Linked DNA regions of Homo sapiens: region 1 is linked to region 2. Evidence: fine-mapped expression QTL. A gene starts in region 2. The other region holds a variant in brackets. All regions are shown on one strand. Distances are from middle to middle. Region 1 holds the start of PERM1 (PPARGC1 and ESRR induced regulator, muscle 1). Region 2 holds the start of ISG15 (ISG15 ubiquitin like modifier).

What was found. PIP is the estimated chance that this variant, and not a neighbour inherited with it, causes the effect. A credible set is the group of variants that fine-mapping cannot tell apart.
Region 1: its variant is the best candidate, but not a certain one, in a credible set for the expression of ISG15 in fibroblasts (GTEx, PIP 0.54).

Annotation. Positions count from the first base shown.
Region 1 is chr1:981,519-986,732 of GRCh38, reverse strand. PERM1 (PPARGC1 and ESRR induced regulator, muscle 1) reads left to right here and starts at 4,640. Exons shown (of 4, transcript NM_001394713.1): 1 at 4,640-4,668. RefSeq lists a silencer at 2,307-2,396. The variant A/G (reference allele first, on the strand shown) is at 2,986.
Region 2 is chr1:1,011,229-1,016,442 of GRCh38, reverse strand. ISG15 (ISG15 ubiquitin like modifier) reads right to left here and starts at 2,946. Exons shown (of 2, transcript NM_005101.4): 1 at 2,867-2,946; 2 at 1,903-2,459. The coding sequence starts at 2,869. The coding sequence ends at 1,965. RefSeq lists a silencer at 687-907 and enhancers at 1,334-1,383, 1,834-1,893, 1,193-2,084, 2,054-2,463, 2,085-2,976 and 1 more.

The DNA of each region.
Region 1 (5,214 bases), 30 kb after region 2:
ATGCACACGTGAGAAGATGCCCAGTGTTGTTCATCATTAAGGAAATGCAAATTAAAACCAGAATGAGCGCCTACTGGGATGACTGAATTACAAAGCTGTCCCGCGCTGAGTGTGGGTGAGGACGAGGACACGGAGCCTGGAACCTCTAGTGGGAATAAATAATTGTACAACCACACTGGAAGACGGTCTGGCAGTTTCTCAAAAAGTTAAACATATACCTATCATATGATCTAGCCACTCCAATTCCGAGTATGTACCCAAGAGAAATGAAAGCATGTGTCCACACGGTCAACCCCAGGTATCTGAGACAGGTCTGAATCCATTTAGAAAGTTGATTTTGCCAGGCCGGGCGCGGTGGCTCACGCCTGTAATCCCAGCACTTTGGGAGGCCGAGGCGGGCTGATCACGAGGTCAGGAGTTCGAGACCATCCTGGCTAACACGGTGAAACCCCGTCTCTACTAAACATACTAAAAAATTAGCTGGGCGTGGTGGTGGGTGCCTGTAGTCCCAGCTACTCGGGAGGCTGAGACAGGAGAATGGCATGAACCCGGGAGGCGGAGCTTGCAGTGAGCCGAGATGGCGCCACTGCACTCCAGCCTGGGCGACAGAGCCAGACTCTGTCTCAAAAAAAAAAGAAAGAAAGTTGATTTTGCCAAGGTTAAAGGTTAGGGACGTGCCCGTGACACGGCCTCAGGAGGTCCTGACGACCTGTGCCCGAGGTGGCCGGGGTACAGCTGGGTTTTCTACATTTTAGGAAGACATGAGACTTCAATAATATGTGTAAGATGTACATTGGTTCAGTCCCAAGAAGCGAGACAATTTGAAGAGGGGAGAGGGCTTCCAGGTCACAGGTGATAAAACAGAGGGTCGCATTCTTTTGAGTTTCTGATTAGATGTTCACTCATCTCAGCAAGCAGAGGAACGGCTTTGAATTCTGCTCATCCTGTGTCTGCAAGGAGTTCCCCTGTGAACACGTCCTGAGGGAGGGAGGCAGCTGTTTATTATTTAAATCTTAGAAGCTGTCTTTTTAAAGAATAGAACGGGAGGCAGGTGGGCCCTAAGCAGTTGCCAGCTTGACTTTTCCATTTGGCTCAGTGATTTGGGGGGTCCCAAAATTCACTTTCCTTTCACAGTACAAACACTTGTACACAAATGTTCGTAGCAGTTTTACCTGTGATAGCCCCAAACTAGAAATAATCCAAATGTCCATCAAGAGAGGCATGGATACAGAAACTGTAGTGTATCCAACAATGGAACACTTTGTATGAAAAGCAACAATTGACATATACCACAGTGTGGGTGAATCTCTAAGAAACGCTGTCACAGAGGACAGGCGTGTTGTACTTTTCTGTCCTGTACGAAGAAGGGCCCAGCGGACAATTCTAGCCAATGCAACTTACTCTGCAGGGACAGCGGATTCGGGGTTGCCTGAGTGTGGGGAGGGAAAGAATCACCAAGGGGCCAAAGGAACGTTTGGGAGTGTTGGAGACGTTTGTGGTGGCTCCCGGGGGTATATGTGTCCAAACCTAGCGAACTGCACATTTTAAATACTTGAAGACCGGGGCGGCTCACACCTGTCATTCCAGCACTTTGGGAGGCCAAGGCGGGCAGATCACTTGAGATCAGGAGTTCGAGACCAGCCTGGCCAACATGGCAAAACCCCATCTCTACTAAAAATACAAAAATTCTCCGGACACGGTGGGCGCCTGTGGTCCCAGCTACTCAGGAGTCTGAGGCAGGAGAATCGCTGGAACCCGGGAGGCGGAGGTTGTAGTGAGCCGAGATGGAGCCACTGCACTCCATCCAGCCTGGGCGACAGAGTGAGACTCCGTCTCAAACGATAGATAGATAGATAGTTAAATAAATAAATACTTGAAGTGTATTACGTGTTAATTATACTTCAATAAAGCTATAAAAAATGAAAAGGAGGCCGGGCTTGGCGATGGCGACTGTGATCCCAGCTACTCAGAAGGCTGAGGCTGGAGGATCACTTGAGCCTGGGAGGTGGAGGCTGCAGTGAGCTGGGATTGCGCCACTGCACTCCAGTCTGGGCGACAGAGCGAAACCCCATCTCAAATAAATAAATAAATAAATAAATAAATAAATAAATAAATAAATAAGAAGGAAAAAAGAAAGAAAAGAAAAAAGAAAGAAAAATAATTCCGCAGCTGTGTACATTGTTTGCGGCTGTACCCGGCATGCGATGGTTGCTCATGGATCAGCTCCCCGACTGTCTCAAGGTCCGGGACTTTCACCCGGGCCACATGGCTTCAGGAAAGGGAGCCGAGCAACCGCCCCCAGAATCGCCCTTCTCGCCCCCCGCCCTCCCCAGGAGGGGCAGGACCTGGCGCCCCCTGACCAGGGCAGGAGCCGCTGAGCCGACCGCAGTGGTGTCCTGGTGCCCTCTGGTGGCCGCTAGGGGCACAGCACGTCCCCATCCTCCCAGGGGACCCTGCCCGACCTCCCCCCGCCCCCCGACTTGCCCCCCAGGCCCGGGTCTGGTCTCTGCCTCCACCGTAGAACTGGGTTATTCCTCCTCCCTGGACTGAGGGGTGCTGCTGCCTGAAGTGCAGGGGGGCCCTGACTATTCCTCATCCTACAGCCACCCTCCCACCAGGAAGGGTCATGACTGGGCTGGATACAGGGAAGGGCTTCCCCTGAAGCCTCAGGCCAACTCCAGTGACAGCTCGTCATGAAAAGGCCTCAGGGTAGGGCCCCTCCCTCCGCCACCCTAGACCTCCTCGCACAGCTCCCTGGCCACAGCCTTGCCGTCGGCCTCCCTGCCTCTCCTGTCCCAAGCCCCAAAGCCTTCTCATCTCGTGATGGTCCACGTGGGGCCCGGATGCCACGTGCATGCCACCCAGGATGTGCTGCTGGGTCAGCTGAGCGTCCACGTGAAGACAGGAGTCCCGTGCCCCCCACCTCCCACCTCTCACAGAAGTCAATGCCAAGTGTGTGGCAGAGCCGAGCGTGAAAGGCGACAC[A/G]GTGAAGTTTTTTTTTAAATGAAGGAATAGGCCGGGCGCGGTGGCTCACACCTGAGGTCAGGAGTTTGAGAGCAGCCTGGGAAACATGGAGAAACCTGGTCCCTACTAAAAATACAAAATTAGCCGGGCATGGTGGCGCCTGCCTGTAATCCCAGCTACTCAGGAGGCTGAGGCAGGAGAATCTCTTCAACCTGGGAGGCGGAGGTTGCAGTGAGCTGAGATTTTGCCATTGCACATCAGCCTGGGCGACAAGAGTGAAACTCCGTCTCAAACAAACAAACAAGCAAAGAAAGGTACCGTTATGAGGGTGGAAAGAGGAGGCAGAGAGGGAGAAGATTCCCCAGTACAAGAGTTCAATGAAGAGCTCGTCCAGAATACGTAAGGACTCCTACAGACCCACAGGGAGGAGGCACAGGGAGGCGGCCGCAGCCGAGAGACGCCACACAGAAGCAGATGCGCAGCTCCTGGGAAACTCCAGCCTGGAGCACGGCCACGCAGCCACCTGGGGAACGGGGCGGCACCTTCTGACGCTGACCCCAAGCGTCCTGGAAATGTGAGAGGTTCGCCGAAAGGAATGTTCCCAGATATTCACAGCCGCACCGTGTGTGGTAGCTGCAAACTGGAAACGACCCACATCGCCACCCACGGGAAACGGCACAGCCGCGTGGCACGTTCACACAGGACAGCCTCACCCGCCCGGGCAGTCGCCCGCGGCCCTCATGGCAGCTGTCTCCAGAGCACGGCGTGGGCCCGAGGACACAGATGCAGAAAGGGATGCAGGGTGCGATTCCACTTGTGAAAGCTCAAGTCAGGCCGGCCCTGCGTGGCGGGACGCCTTGTCCTGTGGTCTCGTGGCAGCTACTTTCTGGAAAAGCATCGTATGGCACCAGGCATGCACTTTCTGCACGCCCAGCTCTCACTGCCACCCCTCACGGCGCACACCCCAGTCTCCTAGTATCGTGCCCTGAACTCTCAGGAGCTTCTCGGTCCAAGCCTCCTCCTTAGAGAGGTCTCCGGCCCCTCCAGCCACGCCTCTCCCTACTTCTTTCTCAGGACGTGCTGCCATCGGAGCTGAGCTCACCTGCCTGTTTGATCGGATGTTTATTGTTGGATCCCTCGCCCTGTCCTCTTGTCCCCTCTGGCTCGGAACCTGCCTGGGAATGGGCACCGTGAACCCCAAGGTCAGGACGGCCTGGAGGGTGCAGCTGAGCGGAGCCAGGCGTGGGGGCTCTGACGCTGACGCTCCCTGGCGTCACTCACCCTCACATGAGCCCCAGAGGTCAGGACCGGGAGGCACAAGCCCTGGCCGGGACACAGAGGCCATCTCAGAAGCAGGCCAGGAACATTCCAGGGGCGGCAGGGAGGGCAGGTCTGAGGTTTCACCGCGGGTGGCGGAGGCACGGGAACTGAGCGGTGCTGCCTGCTGGTCAGCGTCCTCCGGCCCGTGTCTGACCCCACCTCAGCCCGGCCCCGTGCCAGGAAGTCGTCCTCATGTACTGTAGCTGGAGGGCCCTCAAATGCCATCTATTTGTGGCCTGGACCCTGATGGCTGGCACGAGTCTCATGTGGCCACAGGGACGTGGTATTTTTGGCACAGGGGGAGGAGCCTGTGCAGCCACAGCCTAGCACCATGCCGACCCAGGACGGGCAGCTCAGACGCCCAGCTCGGCCGCCGGGACCCAGGTAGGACATGGTCAGCTGCTGGCTCCTGACCCAAGGGGCCCCAATGGTAACAACCCCCACAGAGGCTTCTCAAGAGACCAGAGAGGAGGGCGAAGGTCAGTGGGTGGGAAGCCACCATGCCCTGGCCTCCGTCTCAGGACCGTCCCCACCAAAGTGACTTCCCACCCCTGGGTCCAGAGGGGCTGACCTGAGGCCGAGGGCGGCCCCCTCTAGGGGTAGACCCGACAGCTGGCTAGGGTCTCCTTGCTTCTCTGAGACGGGGCAAAGGAAGGCACCCCGGGCAGCCGGGCAGGCCTGGATCGTGGTGCAGACCTCGAGGACGGCCCGAGGTGGCTGCTGGGTCAAGAGACCCACCGCAGCCTGCACCTCCTGCCCAGGCTCTCCGTGCTGACTTGGGCCAGCTCTGGCCAGCACCACCTGGTGAGCTCAGAGAATAGCCTGGCCCAGCCAAGGCGATCGGAAGGTCATCGCCGAGGGCTGGGCACCTGCTGGGCCCTGTAAACCTTTCCTGTGGCCGGCTGCCAGCTGGGGCGCACTGGGATGGAC
Region 2 (5,214 bases):
GGCGGACCACTTGAGGCCAGGAGTTCAAGACCAGCCTGGCCAACATGATGAAACCCCATCTCTACTAAAAATACAAAAATTAGGCCGGGTGCGGGGGCTCACACTTGTAACCCTAGCACTTTGGAAGGCTGAAGCGGGCGGATCATGAGGTCAGGAATTCGAGACTAGCCTGGCCAATACAGTGAAACGCTGTCTCTACTAAAAACACAAAAAAAAGTTAGCTGGGTGAGGTGGCGGGCACCATTAATCCCAACTACTTGGGAGGCTGAGGCAGGAGAATTGCTTGAACCCGGGAGGTGGAGGTTGCAGTGAACCGAGATGGCGCCACTGCACTCCAGCCTGAGCGACAGAGTGAGACTCTATCTCAAAAAAAAAAAAAAAAGCACGGGTGCGGTGGCTCACGCCTGTAATCCCAGCACTTTGGGAGGCCGAGATGGGCGGATCACGAGGTCAGGAGATCGAGACCATCCTGGCTAACACGGTGAAACCCCGCCTCTACTGAAAATACAAAAAAAAATTAGCCGGGCGTGGTGGCGGGCGCCTGTAGTCCCAGCTACTCGGGAGGCTGAGGCAGGAGAATGGCGTGAACCCGGGAGGTGGAGCTTGCAGTGAGCAGAGATCGCGCCACTGCACTCCAGCCTGGGCGACAAAGCGAGACTCCGTGTCAAAAAAAATAATAATAAAAAGGACTGGGCCTGTGGTGCCCCTCTCACCCCAGGCTAGCTACAGATCTCTGAGCCAGAAGCCACAAAGGAGGCCCTGCCCTGCCCTGCCCCCGTTGGGGGTTCAGGAAAGGCCCCTGGCTAAGTGCTTCACTCGCCCATTGTGACACAGGGGTGAGGTGGGGACCCGGACACAAGGCTGGAGCCAGGACACCCCCTGCTGGGCACATGCGGGCACACACAGTGGTCCTGGTGCAGCCAGATGGGGGTCTCCCCACCTGGATATGGACCCCCACAGACCAGGGGGGACTCTGTGTCTCCAGCCGGATCCTCCCGAGGGCTCTGAAAGCTGAGGCCCAAGTGCCCAGAGTCCGGACTCTGCATGTCCCTCTGTGCCCCGTCCTCGCTGCATCCCAGCCGACATCCGTGCCCCGTCCTCCCTGCTTCCCGGCCAACAGCTGGCTTCTAGGAGACTCATTTAGCAAATTGGAATAGGAGAGACAGAGAAGGGTGCATGGGTGGGGGAAGGGGTGTAGCTTGTAGCTTGTACTGAATTGGGGGCCCCCCACCTGGGACAAGCTCTGCTTCCTGGACGGTGTCAGCCCCAACTCCAGGTGCCCTCCACTGCTGGCCACGGCCCCTCCTTCACGCACAGCCTTGAGGGGGTGTACTTAGCCACCCAGGCTGTCTTCTGCAGCTGGCCCCAGTGGTGATGTGAGTGCTCAGGACCTGTCTCTACCCCTCCCTAGCCCAGCCCAGGCAGGTGGAGCAGGCTGTGTAGGCTGGGCTAGGGACGGCTGAGGTCCCCAGCCCCCAGTTCCTATGGAGAGCCTGCCTCACAGCCCACCGGGCAGGCCCCAAGGACTCACCCCTTACTGCTCCCAGGGGCCCACTGGGAGCCTCCCCTTTTGATCTGATCAGGCGGGTCCCTGCCTAAGCCGTCTGCTGTCCCAGATGGAGGACAGGCAGGATGGGCTCCAGCAACTGTGTCTCTTTTTCTTTTCCTAGAAGTTAATTTCCCAAAGGGTGGGGAGAGCTGTCTTACTTCAGTTTCGGGGTGGGGGGCTCCCTATTTTGATCCCTCGAAGCTGTAACTGCAAACCCTTATCCCTTCACTTGGCAGCCCAGGCCTGGTCACCAGGATGGACCCTGGGTTCTCCCTCCTGACTTCTCCCGCCCCATCACCAGGGGTCTGAGGCGGACGCTGGAGGAGGGGCAAGCACAGACACAGAGGCGGCCATTTCTCTTTACAACAGCCTTTATTTCCGGCCCTTGATCCTGCTCGGATGCTGGTGGAGGCCCTTAGCTCCGCCCGCCAGGCTCTGTGCCGCCTCCCCGCAGGCGCAGATTCATGAACACGGTGCTCAGGGGCTTGAGGCCGTACTCCCCCAGCGGGAGCTGGTCCTCCAGGGGCTTCCCCTCGAAGGTCAGCCAGAACAGGTCGTCCTGCACACCCTCCAGCCCGCTCACTTGCTGCTTCAGGTGGGCCACGGTCTGCGTCAGCCGTACCTCGTAGGTGCTGCTGCGGCCCTTGTTATTCCTCACCAGGATGCTCAGAGGTTCGTCGCATTTGTCCACCACCAGCAGGACCGTGCTGCCGGGGCCCAGGCCCTGGCTGGCAAGGGGGACCCTGTCCTGCAGCGCCACACCGCTCGGGTGGACAGCCAGACGCTGCTGGAAGGCGTGCACGCCGATCTTCTGGGTGATCTGCGCCTTCAGCTCTGACACCGACATGGAGCTGCTCAGGGACACCTGGAATTCGTTGCCCGCCAGCATCTTCACCGTCAGGTCCCAGCCCTGCAGGCGTCACACAGGTTCAGAGACTGCGGCGCCAGCCCCAGGCCCACCACACACAAGGCACTGGCTGCAGGGCGAGCTCCTGTACCCAGGGACAGTGCTCCCTCCTGTCTGTCCTCTACATCCCGCCGGCAGGGACCCCAGGCACAGAAGGCACTGAGGGCTCGTTACTAGAAGGCCAGCTGCCCACCGCCATCCCGTGGCCTCCCTTTACCTGCTAGGGTGCCCCTCTGTGCCCCACCCTGAGGATCTCAGGGGTGACCTGCTTTCAGGAGCACACTTAGAACCTGGCCAAGCTCTGAGCAGCTCCGCTCTCCCTGCACCCCTGGGAGACCTTGGCTGGGGGAGGGAGACGAAAATTGGCTGGCACAGAGCCCACCTCCCCCCACCTGTGACATCTGCCTTACCATGGCTGTGGGCTGTGGGCTGTGGGCCACGGCACAAGCTCCTGTACTGGCAAAGATGAGTTCGCTGCCTCTCAGCCGCCGGCTTCGGCAGGCAGCACCGGCCCTATTATAAGCCTGAGGCACACACGTCAGGGGGCGTGCCGCCGAGCCTGCGCTGGTGGCCAAATTTGGCTTCAGTTTCGGTTTCCCTTTCCCGAGGCATGCCCCAGAGTGAGCGGAAGAAACAAAACCGAATGACCGAAAGACAGGGAAAAGCAAAAGTGGCGGGGACTCCGGACAGCGGACGGCATCCCCACCCCCACCCAACACCCTGGAAACACCTAAATATCGCGCATTCCAGATCCTTCACAGGATGCACTAAAGCTGTCATCACATGGACTAATGGTTTCATTTTCCATTTACCAACTTGCAAAATTAGTAAACTTGGAAAACATCCCCATGGTTAATTGAGAAACAAGAACTCCAAACTACCCAGAGATAACAACACTCGGTTTAGGGCAGTATTTGCTCAGATTGGTGTTTTTTTGTTGTTGTTTTTGTGTTTTTGAGACAGGGTCTCTCACTCTGTCGCCCAGGCTGGAGTGCAGAGGCACGATCTCATCTCATTGCAACCTCCGCCTGCCAGGCTAAAGCGATCCTCTCACCTCAGCCTCCCACGTAGCTGGGACCACAGGGGTGCACCACCAGGCCCGGCTAATTTTTTGTATTTTTAGTAGAGATGGGGGTCTCGCCATGTCGCCCAGGCTGATCTCGAACTCCTGGGCTCAAGTGATCCACCTGCCTCGGCCTCTGAAACTGCTGGGATTACAGGCGTGAGCCACTGCACCCGGAGCCTCAGATTGTTTTTTAATAAAAGAGACCTATCTTTTATTTTCTACAAAAATGAACTCTGGGACACTATTGAGAAAGTGAAAAGACAATCCATAGAATGGGAAGAAATATTTGCAAATTATCTATCTGATGAGGGCATAGCATCCAGGACATATAGAGAACTCTTACAACTCAATAAAAAATAAAAATAAAAAAAAAAGGCAACTCAATTTTCAAATGGCCAAAAGACTTCAATAGACATTTCTCCAATGACATAGAAACGGCTGTAAAGTGATGTTCAACATCATTATTAATTGGGGAAATGCAAATCAAAACCCCAGTGAGATGCTATTTCCTGCTGGTATGACTGTAATAATAAAAATAAAGGCCAGGCCGGGTGCGGTGGCTCACGCCTGCAATCCCAACACTTTGGGAGGCTGAGGCGGGCGGATCACCTAAGGTCAGGAGTTTGAGACCAGCCTGGCCAACATTTTTAGTAGAAACCCCATCTCTACTAAAAATACAAAAATTAGCTGGGCGTGGTGGTGCACGCCTGTAATCCCAGCTACTTGGGAGGCTGAGGCGGGAGAATCCCTTGAACCCAGGAGGCAGAGATTGTGGTGAGCCAAGATTGCACCAATGCACTCCAGCCTGGGCAGCAGAGCAAGACAGTCTCAAAAAATAATATAAAATAAACATAAAGGCAGTAACAAGCACTGGGGAATACATAGAGGAACTGGAATCCTGGTACATGCATTGCTGTTGAGAATGTAAAACAGTGCGGCCGCCGCGATGCTCAAAACGTTCAACAGAATTATTGGGAACCCAGCAGTTCCACTTCTAGGCATGTGTCCAAAAGAATTGAAAATAGGTGTTCAAATACTTGCATACAAATGTCCATGGCAGCACAGTTTACAATAAACAAGTAGCAGGAACGGAGCACATGTCCATCAGTGATGGATGGACACACAAAGTGTGGAATGTCCACACAACGGAATATTATGCAGCCATGAAAAGGACTGAGGCACTGATTCATGTGAAAGAACCTTGAAAACGTTATGCTAAGTGGAAAGAGCCAGACACGAAGGCCGCAGAGTGTTGGTTCCATTCACCGCAGGGGAAACGACCGGAACTGGTAGAGCCGCAGCACAGGAAGCCGACCCCGTTACCGGGGGCCAGGGAGGGGGAGTGGGGGGTGATTGCTTCAGAGCCACAAGCCCCTTTGGGGGTGACAATGTTTCAGAACTCCACAGAGGTGATGGTTGGACAACGTGGTAAATAACTAAACGCCACTGGATTTCATTCTTTAAAATGGTTAGTTTTATGTTATATGAATTTCACATCAATAAAAAGCAAAGGTGAAAAGGCCTCACCATACTTTCACTGTTTTGTAACCTGCTTCATTCATGCAACAGTGTATCATAAACATCTATCCAGGCCAGGCGGCTCATGCCTGTAATGCCGGCATTTCGGGAGGCTGAGGCGGGAGGATCATTTGAGATCAGGAGTTCGAGACCAGCCTGACCTACATGGCGAAA